Regions from separate parts of the Homo sapiens genome. Here region 1 is linked to region 2. The links come from fine-mapping of genetic effects on gene expression. Tissue or cell type: lung. Region 2 holds a variant in brackets; the other region holds the start of a gene. All regions are shown on one strand. Distances are between the middles of the regions.

What was found. PIP is the estimated chance that this variant, and not a neighbour inherited with it, causes the effect.
Region 1: it holds the start of EXOC3-AS1, and the variant in region 2 is fine-mapped to the expression of EXOC3-AS1 in lung (TOPMed, PIP 0.97). The same link has a PIP of 0.9 or more in caudate.

What each region holds. Positions count from the first base shown.
Region 1 is chr5:439,900-446,263 of GRCh38, forward strand. EXOC3-AS1 (EXOC3 antisense RNA 1) reads right to left here and starts at 3,261. Exons shown (of 1, transcript NR_126522.1): 1 at 1,936-3,261. It overlaps EXOC3 (exocyst complex component 3), which reads left to right and starts at 3,277. Exons shown (of 13, transcript NM_007277.5): 1 at 3,277-3,391; 2 at 6,251-6,364. The coding sequence starts at 6,307. RefSeq lists enhancers at 1,009-1,068, 1,079-1,138, 2,722-2,771, 2,792-2,901, 3,672-3,801 and 2 more and a silencer at 2,982-3,371.
Region 2 is chr5:477,415-482,898 of GRCh38, forward strand. SLC9A3 (solute carrier family 9 member A3) reads right to left here. Exons shown (of 17, transcript NM_004174.4): 7 at 5,134-5,336; 8 at 4,654-4,743; 9 at 4,151-4,221; 10 at 2,422-2,551; 11 at 1-30. It overlaps SLC9A3-AS1 (SLC9A3 antisense RNA 1), which reads left to right. Exons shown (of 7, transcript NR_125375.1): 5 at 392-435; 6 at 2,368-2,802; 7 at 2,948-3,478. Among named protein-coding and RNA genes, the nearest start is that of SLC9A3-AS1, 6.9 kb to the left of the region's middle. RefSeq lists an enhancer at 750-919. The variant C/G (reference allele first, on the strand shown) is at 2,217.

The sequences.
Region 1 (6,364 bases), 37 kb before region 2:
GCCGCAGTGAGGTCTGGCTGACAATAGAGCAGGGCCTGGGTCATGGCTCATGGTCTGGTCAGGTCAACGGACACCCTAGTCATGGCTCAGAGGCTTCAGCAGGGCCCCGTGGGGAGGGTGTGGGGACAAGGTCTCCCTGAAGGCCGAGGGAAGCAGCTTATTCCCCGGAGCCAGTGGCTCTTGTCCTTTACCCGTTTCTTGCTGCACTTGTTTGCCCTTTTAGATCAATTTGCAGGAGTTCTGTTTTTATTCTGGATAGCAATTTTCTTGTCAGTTACAGATGCTGACAATGTTTTCCCTCAGTCTGTGGCTTGGCTTTTCACTTAAGGATTTAAAAATTATATCCCACAAGAGTTTAAGATTTTAATATAGCAACTTTTCTATTTTATTCTTTATGGCTTATGCATTTTGCATCTTAGGAAAATAACTATCTTTGACAGTGGCTTTTGACCAAAAACCCATGTTGTTTGATATTCATATCCCCACACCAGCTTCTCGGGCCTGGCTGACCCACGTGTGAAAAGCCTCCAGTTCTAATCGTTGTTTCTTGATGCTTTAGATGTTCGCCTATGAATGTTTCACTGTTTCTAATCCACTTACTTGTGTTCTCATTACTGATACATTTCAACACAGGGTCCTCATCTTCTCCTTGCCTGCAGTCTCTGTGCTGTTGCCTGCATTTTCTCTCTTCCTGTTTCTATTTCTGTAGTGGCTAACCTTAATGTGGGCATTTAACAAGGTCTAAGCAGGAGCTAAGCACGGTCTCTATTCTCCCAGAGCAGGGTCAGGACTGTGGGTGCTTCAGTGCCCTCCCCTCCCTCCCCCTCGAGTTTGCTCCTGTCAAGGTGGAGGAGGATCCCTCTAGCAATGACCCTGGGTTGGCTTCCGCCGAGGGCTGAGTTTAGGAACAGTCTCCAGGCTGTTGCTGTTTTCCTAGTCCACGCTTTCACTGAGGATGCATCCCTTGCACATCTGTGCTTCACATGGGAGTCGCCGTCCACCTCCCACCTGCTGGGAGCCTTAGCTTCATCATCTGTCCTGCTTCAGTGTAAAACCCAACCCCTGGGCCGCAGAACTCGCACCCTACCCACCCACCTGCCTGCTGTAGGACGGCAAGCATCTCTGCTTCTGATTCACGTCCTCTCCCCTTCCCACATTTGTCCCTGGTCACGTCCTTGCCTGTTCGTGAATCCACTTGTGCAATCGACATGATGCTTGCACTCAGCAGTGCTCCTGGGTGTTCGCAGAACATGGTCTGCCAAAAACAGAAGTCAAGAAACTTTTTTTTTTGAGACAGATTCTCCCTCTGTCACCCAGGCTGGAGTGTAGTGGTGCCATCTCAGTTCACTGCAACCTCCTCCTCCCGGGTTGAAGCCATTCTCCTGCCTCAGCCTCCCAGGGAGCTGAGATTACAGGCATGCACCACCATGCCTGGCTAATTTTTGTGGGGTTTTTTTTGGTAGAGATGGGGTTCCTACCAAAAAGACCATGTTGCCCAGGCTGGTCTCAAACTCCTGGGCTCAAGGGGTCTGCCCATCTCAGCCTCCCAAAGTGCTGGGATTACAGTTAGGAGCCACTGCGCCCAGCCAATAAATACCTTTTTTTTTTTTTTTTTTTTTTTTTTTTTTTTGAGACGGAGCCTCGCTCTGTTGCCCAGGCTGGAGTACAGTGGCGCGATCTTGGCTCACTGCAAGCTCCGCCTCCCGGGTTCACGCCATTCTCCTGCCTCAGCCTCCCGAGTAGCTGGGACTCCAGGGGCCCACCACCACACCTGCCTAGTTTTTTTGTATTTTTTTTAGTAGAGACGGGGTTTCACCATGTTAGCCAGGATGGTCTCGATCTCCTGACCTCATGATCTACCTGCCTCGCCTCCCAAAGTGCTGGGATTACAGGCGTGAGCCACGGCGCCCCGCCAAGAAAGACTTCTAATCAATGTTTTGTTAAGAAGTTACTAGACAGTCCTCCATCCAAATTCACTACCAGACACTGATATAATAGTATGAGTCTTTAGTTCATAATACTCAATGTTACTATATTTTTAAGAGTCCTAAAAGCTTTGGCAATTTTGGCAATTTTTTCTTCATTAGTTTCAAAATTTCTTTACAGTCATAATTTCTAACACAATTTTAACTTTTTTACTTTTTTTCATTGCTCAACTTGTTGCTAGATTTTCAGAAATTACAAGGAAAAACTGAAATAATAGAGCCGGGGTCAGTGTCAACATCAGCAGGGCACGGGGCAGGGCTCCCTGTCGGAGTGGCAGTGGGGGCTCCCGCAAGCTCCATCTCCTTCCTGTGTGCCCCTGCCCCATGCTGCTGCCACTTCCCTGGTCTCTGCTGGCTTCCCTGCCACCTTCCAGACCCTTCCTTTCGTGTGGCTAATTTTCAGGAGGGGCAGGGGCACAACCTAGCAGCTCCAACCTATGAAAGACTTTGTCAGTTGGTGTGTCAAAGCCAGCATCTTTTATCAAACAGACAAACCCTGAACGCTCGTGGTTTAGCACGTGCTTCTTCCTCCAGGCGAAGCCAAGTGCTGGCCATGGGCCTCTCCTCCAGGAAGCGACTCAGGACCGGCCCTCTGCAGCGCGGCCCAGTGACCCACATTCATTCTCCAAGACCTGCGCTGCTGGGCCTCTGAGGGGCCCCGGAAACATCCGGTGGCCACCCATCCCACTGGCATTGTTCCCACGAGGGTGCCAATGACTGCGCTCCTGGAGGGGCTGAGTTCGTCTTTGGGTCCAGGAGGTACCCAAAGCCGCTTGTCTGCTGGTGGCAGGTATGACAGACGTTTGATTCCCAACCTTCTCCGCTTTGGTTTCTTCGTTTACTGAATGCCCGGCGCCCACCTCAGTCCGCGGGAAACGAGGGACGCCCCTGCCACACTGCAGTGCGGACGACGAGGCCAACATAAAGACAGCAGGCATCAGCAGAGGATGGAGACAGCGGCTCTGGGGCTGTCTTCTCTCCGCAGGTTGGGAAGGGAAAGGAGAGAAAATGCACGCAGTCACGCTCGGCGGAGGCGTCCAGGACTGCGCCCGCCCTGGGGAAGGGCGCACGCGGTGGTCGCCAGGGGCAGCGAGAGGGCCTGAGTTGGGGGGGCTGGGACGGACAAGAAGCCCCCCACCTCGGCGGTTTCCCTGTCCTGCTGGGGAGCGGCCATGGGGCAGGTCCCCGAGCTGAAGTCGCTCGGCCGGGAGACGAGTACCCGCCCCGCGGGAGGGCCCGGACCCGTGCTTCCGGCGCCGTTGCCGGAAGCGGAAGTGCCCGCGCGCTGTCCACTTCCGGCCGGGACCCCGGAGGCGGAGGCAGCGAAGGCGGAGGGGGCGGCGGGGGCGGCGGCGGCGGCGGCGGCGGCGGCGGCGGCGGCGGCGGCGGCGGCGTAGCCGTAGAGGGTGAGTCGGTGGCAGGTCCTGACGGCCGGCGGGTCCTTGGGAGGTGGTCGCCGTCTTTCATCCTTGCTCTCCCTGTCTCTGGCTTCCGCGGGGGCGCGTAGGGGGAGGCCGGACCGGGACCTGGAGGGCGGGGAGGCCGTTCCGGACCCCGTGGAGTATCCCGCTCGTGCGAGTGTCCTCGGCGCAGGTGTCCTCCCCGGCACATGTGTCCCCCCCAGGCGTAGGTGTCCCCTTGGCACATGTGTCCCCACAGGCACAAGGTCCTTCCTGGTGCAGGTGTCCCCTTAACAGTGTCTTCCCCCACGCCCCAGGCGCTGGTGTCCTTCCTGGCACAGGTGTCCCCCCTCGGAGCAGGTGTCCCTCCTTGGGGCAGATGTCCCTCCAGGCACAAGTGTCCTTCCTGGCGCAGGTGTCCCCTCGGCGCAGGAGTTCTCCAAGGTGCAAGTGTCCCCTCAAGCACAGGTGTCCCTCCCAGGCACAAGTGTACTTCCTGGTGCAGGTGTCCTCTTGACGGTGTCCCCCCCCAGGCGCAGTTGTCCTTCCTGGCACAGGTGTCCCCCCTCGGACCAGGTGTCCCTCGTCGGAGCAGGTGTCCTTCTGGGCACAAGCGTCCTTCCTGGCCTTTAGGAAGCTTTCAAGGTGCAGGTGTCCTCCAAGGTGCAGGTGTCCTCCAGCGGAGTGTCCCCTCCGTGAGGTGCCTCCCAGCACAGGTGTTCCCCTCGGCGCAGGCGTCCCCCCGGTAAAGGGTCCCTCCTGGCAGAGGTGTCTGCCCGGCAGAGGTGTCTCCCTGGCGCAGGTGTCTCCGTGGGTGCTGATGTTCCCCGCAGTAGGGTGTCCCCCCGCTCGGCGGAGAGGCTCACAGCGGAGCCAGCGCCAGGGGAAGGCAGTCAGAAAGGCCCTGGTAGGGGCTGGACCTGGGTCTCTGTTTATGGTCTCTGAGTTCCTCTTTGGCTTCTGTGACCCAAAATCTTTAGTCTTCAGGCTGGGATGGAAGCCTCTGCGGTGCGTTTTTTAACTCCAGATTTTCCCCTTTTCCACATGAGTAGCTTTATTCTGACTCCAAGGCGAGCCCTGCTTCACAGCTCTCCACTCACATTGCCTTGGCTTCCACCCACAGCGTGACAGACTTCACTCCAGCCTTAAGATGGGCGCAGCCACCTCACCGCGTGCCCCAGCAGAGCGGCTGGGGGTCCACTTCTTGGGTTATTATCCAGCCCTATAATCAAAATCATACAGGCTTTAATGTCAATGGAAATGCTGATGATAATGTCCAAACAAAATAAGAAAACAAAAGTGTGCACCTACAAAGTCATATAAGCAGTGGAATCTTAGCTTTAAAAGAAACTCAAAGGGAAAAAACTGGAAGGAAACAAGCCCTGTTGGAGGGAGTTGCCCCTGAGTGTCGGGATTTAAGGGGAGTTGTCCCTGGGTGGCGGGATTTAAGGGGAGTTGCCCCTGAGTGGTGGGATATAGCGGGGGTTACCCCTGAGTGGTGGGATTTACGGGAAGTTGTCCCTGGATTGTGAGATTTAAGGGAAGTTGCCCCTGGGTAGCAAGATTTAAGAGGAGTTGCCCATAGATGATGGGATTTAAGGGGAGTTGCCTCTGGCATCTTTGTATTTTTGTCCTGTCCAGATTTTCTACGTTGGTATGCCAAATTTCATAATCAGAAAATAAAGAGAAAGGAAAGGTTGCAATGTAGGTCCAGATGAAAAAGGAGAAGAGAGGTGTCTGAAAGCATGTGGGCATGGAGAATGAAAAATTCCAGGAGAAGGTGAATCTTTTTAATATTCATGAAGATGAAAATCAGACAGCTGAAGTCAAGGGGAACAGGTGTATCGGATTCCCTCATTGACTGATGCTCACCAAGCAGCTGTGTTAGCTCCCCGAGGAGGACGATGGTGGAGGGAGCATGGAAGGCAGGCTTGCCTGGCATCTGAGCACCTGTGGTCTGCACGGGGCCTGCATAAAGGAGGGAAGCATGATGTTTTCTAGGACAGTTAAAAAAGGGGGAAATGGGGTTTTGGATACCCAAGACAATAATGACTTTTTCTTTTTTTTTCTTTTTTTTTTTTTTGAGACGGAGTCTCGCTCTGTCGCCCAGGCTGGAGTGCAGTGGCGCGATCTCGGCTGACTGCAAGCTCCGCCTCCGGGGTTCACGCCAGTCTCCTGCCTCAGCCTCCCGAGTAGCTGGGACTACAGGCACCCACCAACATGCCCAGCTAATTTTTTTGTGTGTATTTTTAGTAGATACAGGGTTTCACCATGTTAGCCAGGATGGTCTCGATCTCCTGACCTCGTGATCCACCCGCCTCGGCCTGCCAAAGTGCTGGGATTACAGGCGTGAGCCACCGGGCCTGGCTGACTATTGTCACTTTTATAGGGTGGGAATTGTGGGGCTTGTGCTGGGCCTCCAGCTGTGGTACCTGGTCGGGGGAGTTGTCCACGCTGTATTTGTCTTCACTGAGGGTCCTGGTGCAGCTGCCCACAGGCCTGGCCAAGGTGCTGGGGGAAAGCTCCCGAAATGAGAAACCAGCCCTGTCTTGGGGAGAGATGTGCCTTTGAGGCTGACATCTACATGCTGGGTGGTCTGGGACCCACATCTAGAATCTTCGCAATGTCCATGTCTCTCATGCCTGTGAAACGCCCCTGCTCTCCCCTTAAAGGTATAACTTCTGCATGTTTGTGTTACGAAGGTTTGTTTATCTTATCAAGGAGTTCCTCATCCTAGTTCAGCTTTCTTTGAGGTTTCCTGGATTAATGATCTCAGAGGCTCTGCTTGTAGCTCCACTGTGATCACCTGATAGTTTGGGGGAGGTTTTGTACCTAACATTTCTACCGTCCTAACAACTCCTGCAGTGCACAGAGAACACCCCTAGCATGAACAGTGTGAGGATTCCACCAGCTTTTTCACCATGAAGGAGACAGACCGGGAGGCCGTTGCGACAGCAGTGCAAAGGGTTGCTGGGATGC
Region 2 (5,484 bases):
GATGAAGGCCAGGGACCCGCGGCGCTCTCCCTGTGGTCAGGAAGCAGCCCGGTCAGTGGCCTGAGCAGCCAAGCCCTAGCTGCTGCCATTGTGTGCCCTGGGGGGAAGCGCCCAGAGCTCGGGGCCCGGGGAAAGCCTTGAGACCTGAGCCCCGGGTTCACGCCTCACAGCTGCAGAGGGAGGGGTGGAAATGCCAAAACCAGGAGATCAGATTTTGAGCCCCTGTCCGTCTGAGGCCACAGCCAGGCTGCTGCCTGAACTGGGCAGAGGTCATGCTTGTGGGAGGACACAGTGGTCTGAGTGTGAAGGGGTAAAGCTGCCTGGGACTTGGGATGTGTCTGGGGAAAGTGTTGATACTGCAGAATCATTGAAGTGGTCTCTGTCCCTGCAGGAGACCCTAAAACTCCATTGGCCTCATGTCCAGAACTGAATCAGGTAGAGAACGGAGCAGAGCCCGATGGGGCACAGAAGCCACACAGCTGAGTGCCAGAGGATGGAAGTGGGGCCGCCTATGTGTCCTCAGACCCCACCCGCCTGATGGCAGGGCCTGGAGAGCATGAGGTTGTGCAGGAGCACAGGGCAGAGTGGGCTTATGGCTGGAGTCAGGGTCCCCAGGGCCGGCAGGGGCACGGGTGTGGAGGGAACGTCAGCTCACTGCACTCAGACCTCGCCAGGTGGGCACCCGTGCCGCCTTCAGTGTGCAGGATGCTCCCAGGGAAGCCCCCGGGGTCAGGTGGGTGCCGCTGTTCCCACTGAAGATGCGGCCCCCAGTTCACTGCCCACTCGGGGGGGATTTGAGGGTCATTGGTTCTGAGGGCCCTCCGCCTGCTCTTTTGCTTCTAAATCCAGCATCTTCTGTATGACCTTTGTCCCGCTCCTGCCACCCCACGAAGACAGACGTGAGGGTCAGGGGAGCCACGGTGCTAACTGCCACTCTGGGCGGGCACAGGCGAGGGCTGTGCAGCACCCGGGCACGTGGGGTCTTCGGAGGGGCTGCTCCCCACACCACTTCCCCTGCCCCTGCCGAGCCCTGCCGTGGGGTGGGGGGGCGCAGGGAGAGAAAGCAGCCGCCCTGGGTGAGAGCCAGGAGGGACACTGGGCAGGCAGATGCCACCCCAGGTGTGGGGACCCCCGCTACTGAGTGGCCGGGAGGAGCCCACAGGCTCCCCACATGCAGCTGAGCCCAGGGTTGTGGTCGTGGGTCGTGGGTCAAGGATGGTGGCTGGTGTGGTTGGGGGAGAGGCTCAAGGCCCGCCTGCCAACCTTGTCACCTATGTGGGGGTGAGGGGAGCCCGCCAGAGGCCAGAGCCCCCACTGTCCCTTCCCACCCTCCAGCCAGGCTCCAGGCCTCCTAGGGCCAGAGTATCTGAGCTTTCTCTCGCTTGCCGGGCCTGTGGTTTGGGGGTTTGTGTGGAGCCTGGTCCAGGAGCCCTCCTTCCTGATCTGCACTGGCTGGCCCTCCTGACAGCCCCAGGCCCCCGTGCCCTCTGCCAGGAGGTGCCTTGCCACTTGGCATGGCCCCAGTCACGGGTGGCACATCTGGGGTGAATGCACGTCAGTGGAGGCAGAATCATTCTGTCTGAATGAATGGAGTTTCCAGGCCCCCACTGGCCCTCTGTGTGAGGGTCTGCAGGGTTTGGCAGGACAGGTCTTTCTCTCCGGCGAGAGCACCCACCCTGACCGGCTGCTGGATGAGGGCACCAAAGCTCGCTAGGGAGGGCTCTGTCCTTAGGGAGGAGCTGCGGAATCCCTGCAGCTGTGCCCCCAGGCCCTGCCTTGCACACTTCCTGCAGCCAGGGCGCCCCTGGGGAGGTCAGGGCAGGCCGGGGAGGCTGAGGCCCACCTGCCATAGTGGGCAGGTGCGGGAGCCAGGGCGGCAGTGGCCTCGGGGCTGGGTGGGGCGCCTGGCCTCTGGTCTCTGGAGCAGTCAGGGGCTCTGCAGACGCTGAGAGGCCTGCTCATAGTGGACTGGGAGATGCTGGAGCAGCCTCAGAGCCATGGCCGGCCCACAGCGGGAGACGGCCCTGCTGCTGCCCCTCTGCCTGTGCGTGTGCACCTGTGGGCACCTGCGTGTGCTGGGGCAGGCAGGGCTGTATTGGGACCAGGTCCCGTAACAGCCTGCCTGCTTACCGTCTGCTCCCATCCCTGGGGAAAGCAAGGGAGCTCGGGGTCCTAGGACCTGACCTCAGCGCTCACCCCCACCAGCACCACAGTCA[C/G]CAGGACTCTGTGACTCAGTTTACCCCACGAGAGCCCCTGGGATTCCCAGGGCATCAGAAGGCCCATCAGCCTCCCGTGAACTGCTGGGGTGGGCCTGGCCTTGGGACGCGGGTGCAGGGGCCTCTCCTCACTGCCCCATGGCACCCACAGCCAGTGCCAGAGCCTGCTGCAGCCCCGACCCGGCAGAGCAAGCGGCTCTGCTACCTCAGCCACGTAGCTGATGGCATCCTTCAGGTTCAGCTCGTGGAAGACATTCAGGATCCGGTCTCGAGACTTCTGGGCCGACCGTCTCATGAGGACCCTGCTGAGGAACTTCCTGTCGAAGTGGGACCACCTGTAGGGACAGACCTTGGGTGTGAGCCTCAGGTGACAGGCGCCCTAGAGCCCGCCGGACGCGTGGCCCGGCCCCTTCTCTCCTGAATTTTGTTTGCTATAGTGACCCTGTAGGCGCGTTTAAAATGAGGGAAGCAGCCCCTGCCACACGCCCAGGCCGTCCGCCGTTCTCCCGCCTGTCCTGTTGGATGGAGGCCGTTAGACGCATATGAAACTGCATGCCGCCTCCTCCAGAGGGTGGCTCAGGACACGGTGGGTGTCAGGCCTGGTCAGGCAAGGGGGCTTTGGCCACATGGGGGGCACCTTCAGGTGCACAGGAGGAAGGGCAGGGGCGGACAGACACCCTGAGCCCTTAGACTTGTGGGAGCCAAGCTGACCAGAGTGAGGTTTTTTTTAGCCTAACGGAATTAGAGTATTCGCTGGTTATCCAGATCAGAAGGGACGGTGGCCTGGCCGGACTTAGAGGAAACTCTGGGGCACAAGGAGGTGATGCCTGTCACTTGGACATGGGTGCAGCCGCCAGAGCCGCCCTCCAGGGCACAGGGTGGGCCCGGGTGAGCTTGTGTGCTCACACCTGGGCAGGCCCCGCGGCAGCAATGGCAGCTCTCCTGTACAGGCTGAGTTTCAGCCACACCAAGAAGTCAAAGCTAACCGAGGCTGTGCCTTCCGAGACCCCCGGGATGGCCCCTGGGAGGCCAAGGAGTCGGGGACTGGGTACCCGGAGCAGAGTCACTGTGGCCACGGAGAACCGCAGCTGAGCTTTATGAAGCCACGTGGCCACACCTCCCGGTGCCTCCACCCCAAGCAAACACAGATCGCTCAGAAAATGGGAACCCAGGGCAAATTGTATGTGCTCCTTACTGGGTTTATTATAAGTGTCACATGTTTTTTATAATAAAACATAGGTGATTTCACCTTAATGGACAAACTCTTTTTTTTATTTTGGGACGAAGTCTCGCTCTGTCACCAGGCTGGAATGTAATGGCGCAATCTCGGCTCACCGCAGCCTCCACCTCCCGGGTTCAAGCGATTCTTGTGCCTTAGCCTCCTGAGTAGCTGGGATTACAGGCCCACGCCACCACCCCTGGCTAATGTTTGTATTTTTAGTAGAGACGGGGTTTCACCATGTTGGCTAGGCTGGTCTCAAACTCCTGACCTCAAGTGAGCTGACCACCTCAGTCTCCCAAAGTGCTGGGATTACAGGCTTGAGCCCTGCCAGACAAAATCATTTTAAATGTTGACTGATACTAACCCTGTTTATGACGTGGAGGAAATAATCTATTTGCCTTATTTTCAATTCCTACATAACAATTTGGAATTAATTGGGCCACATGAGAGGGCATCTCTATTCCCTGGAAGGAGCACAGAGAATTCAGCTCCTGTCCCCTCACTCGGTGGCCCCAACTGCTGCCGCCAACTCCTTTCCGCAGCACCTGCGTGTCTCGGGGCACACCTGGCACCTGGCCTCATGGGGCACCGGAGCCCTGACCAAGCCTGGACTCAAACAGTTGTTATGCATGTGGCTTCTGGTTCTTCCGAGTGGAGGATGTTTCCAGAAGCCGGGCTGTGCGACACCGCCGGGGCCGTCCCAGCCACTTACTTGTCTCTGAGATAATTGTGCCCGATCTGTCCGGATATGTCCTCGATGGCCGAGAGGATGTGGTCGAAAGCCTTTCAAGGGAAGAAAGACATGAGCGTCTCGGGGCGGCCAACCGGGGAACATGAGGTGCCCCTCCACTCCTGGCCCAGCCCCGAGGAACCCACCAGCCCCCCTCACCACGCCCCTGGCCTGGACGCAGCCTCCTCTCCCCTCCTGGCCCAGCCCCAAGGAACACACGGTGCCCTCCGCCACCCCCCAAGCCCCAGACCAACGCAGCCTCCTCTCCCCTCTCAGCCCAGCCCCGAGGAACACGCAGTGCCCCCCCCCGCCCCCCAGCCCCGCACGTATGGCGGCCTCCTCTCCCCTCCTGGCCCAGCCCCAAGGAACACACGGTGCCCTCCGCCACCCCCCAAGCCCCAGACCAACGCAGCCTCCTCTCCCCTCTCAGCCCAGCCCCGAGGAACACGCAGTGCCCCCCCCCCGCCCCCCAGCCCCGCACTTACGCGCCCGTGCAGCTTCTCGTTGAGCCGAGGTTCCCGGTGCTCGCTCCTCTTCACCTTCAGCCACTGCACCAGAGGCTTGATGGTCAGGCCCTGGAGGACAGGGTCTCGTGACCCTGGTGCCAGGCAGCCCCCCACATCCCGCTGGCCCGGCCAGGTGCACCACACAGAGCCACCTGCCCCGGGGCCCACAGGCGCCCTCCCTGCTCTCCGGGCACCCAGCAACCCGCGCCCCTGCTTTGCAGAGGAGGAAGCAGCACCCGGGGCCTCATCCACCAGCGAAGGCCCGGGAAGAACATTTTTAGGACAATTATGCTTCCTCCCCAGTGGGGCCACGTGAAAACCTACAAAACGGCTCCTAGTTACTAAAATTATGAAACCCAATTAGGGTCTGGAGCCTGGAAATGCTTGTCCTGAAGTGCGGGCCCAGGCTCCCCTCGCGGGCGGGGCCGAGACCCCAGGGCTGGCTGGGCTGGGCCTCACCTGGAAGATGACGGTGAAGAACACTACGATGATGGTGGTGCTGACGAACAGGTTCTTCTCCTTGACCTTGTCTCCATCCAGAAGCACCACCAGGGCAAAGGCCACGGCCCCGCGCAGGCCCCCGTAGGACAGGACCACCTGGTCAATGGGCTCCAGCTGCACCATGCGGTAGCGGTTCAGAAGCCAGGTCTGCAGGACCACACCTGCGGATGATGGGGCGGGCACTCAGCTCCCCGGCCGCCCTCCCAGCCGCGGGACCCCAGCCCCTCCGGGACAGCGTCTTGGCGGCCAAGCATGTGCTGACGAAGAACAGCGGCACCCTAGATACGGCGTCCCCACGCCACGTCCCTC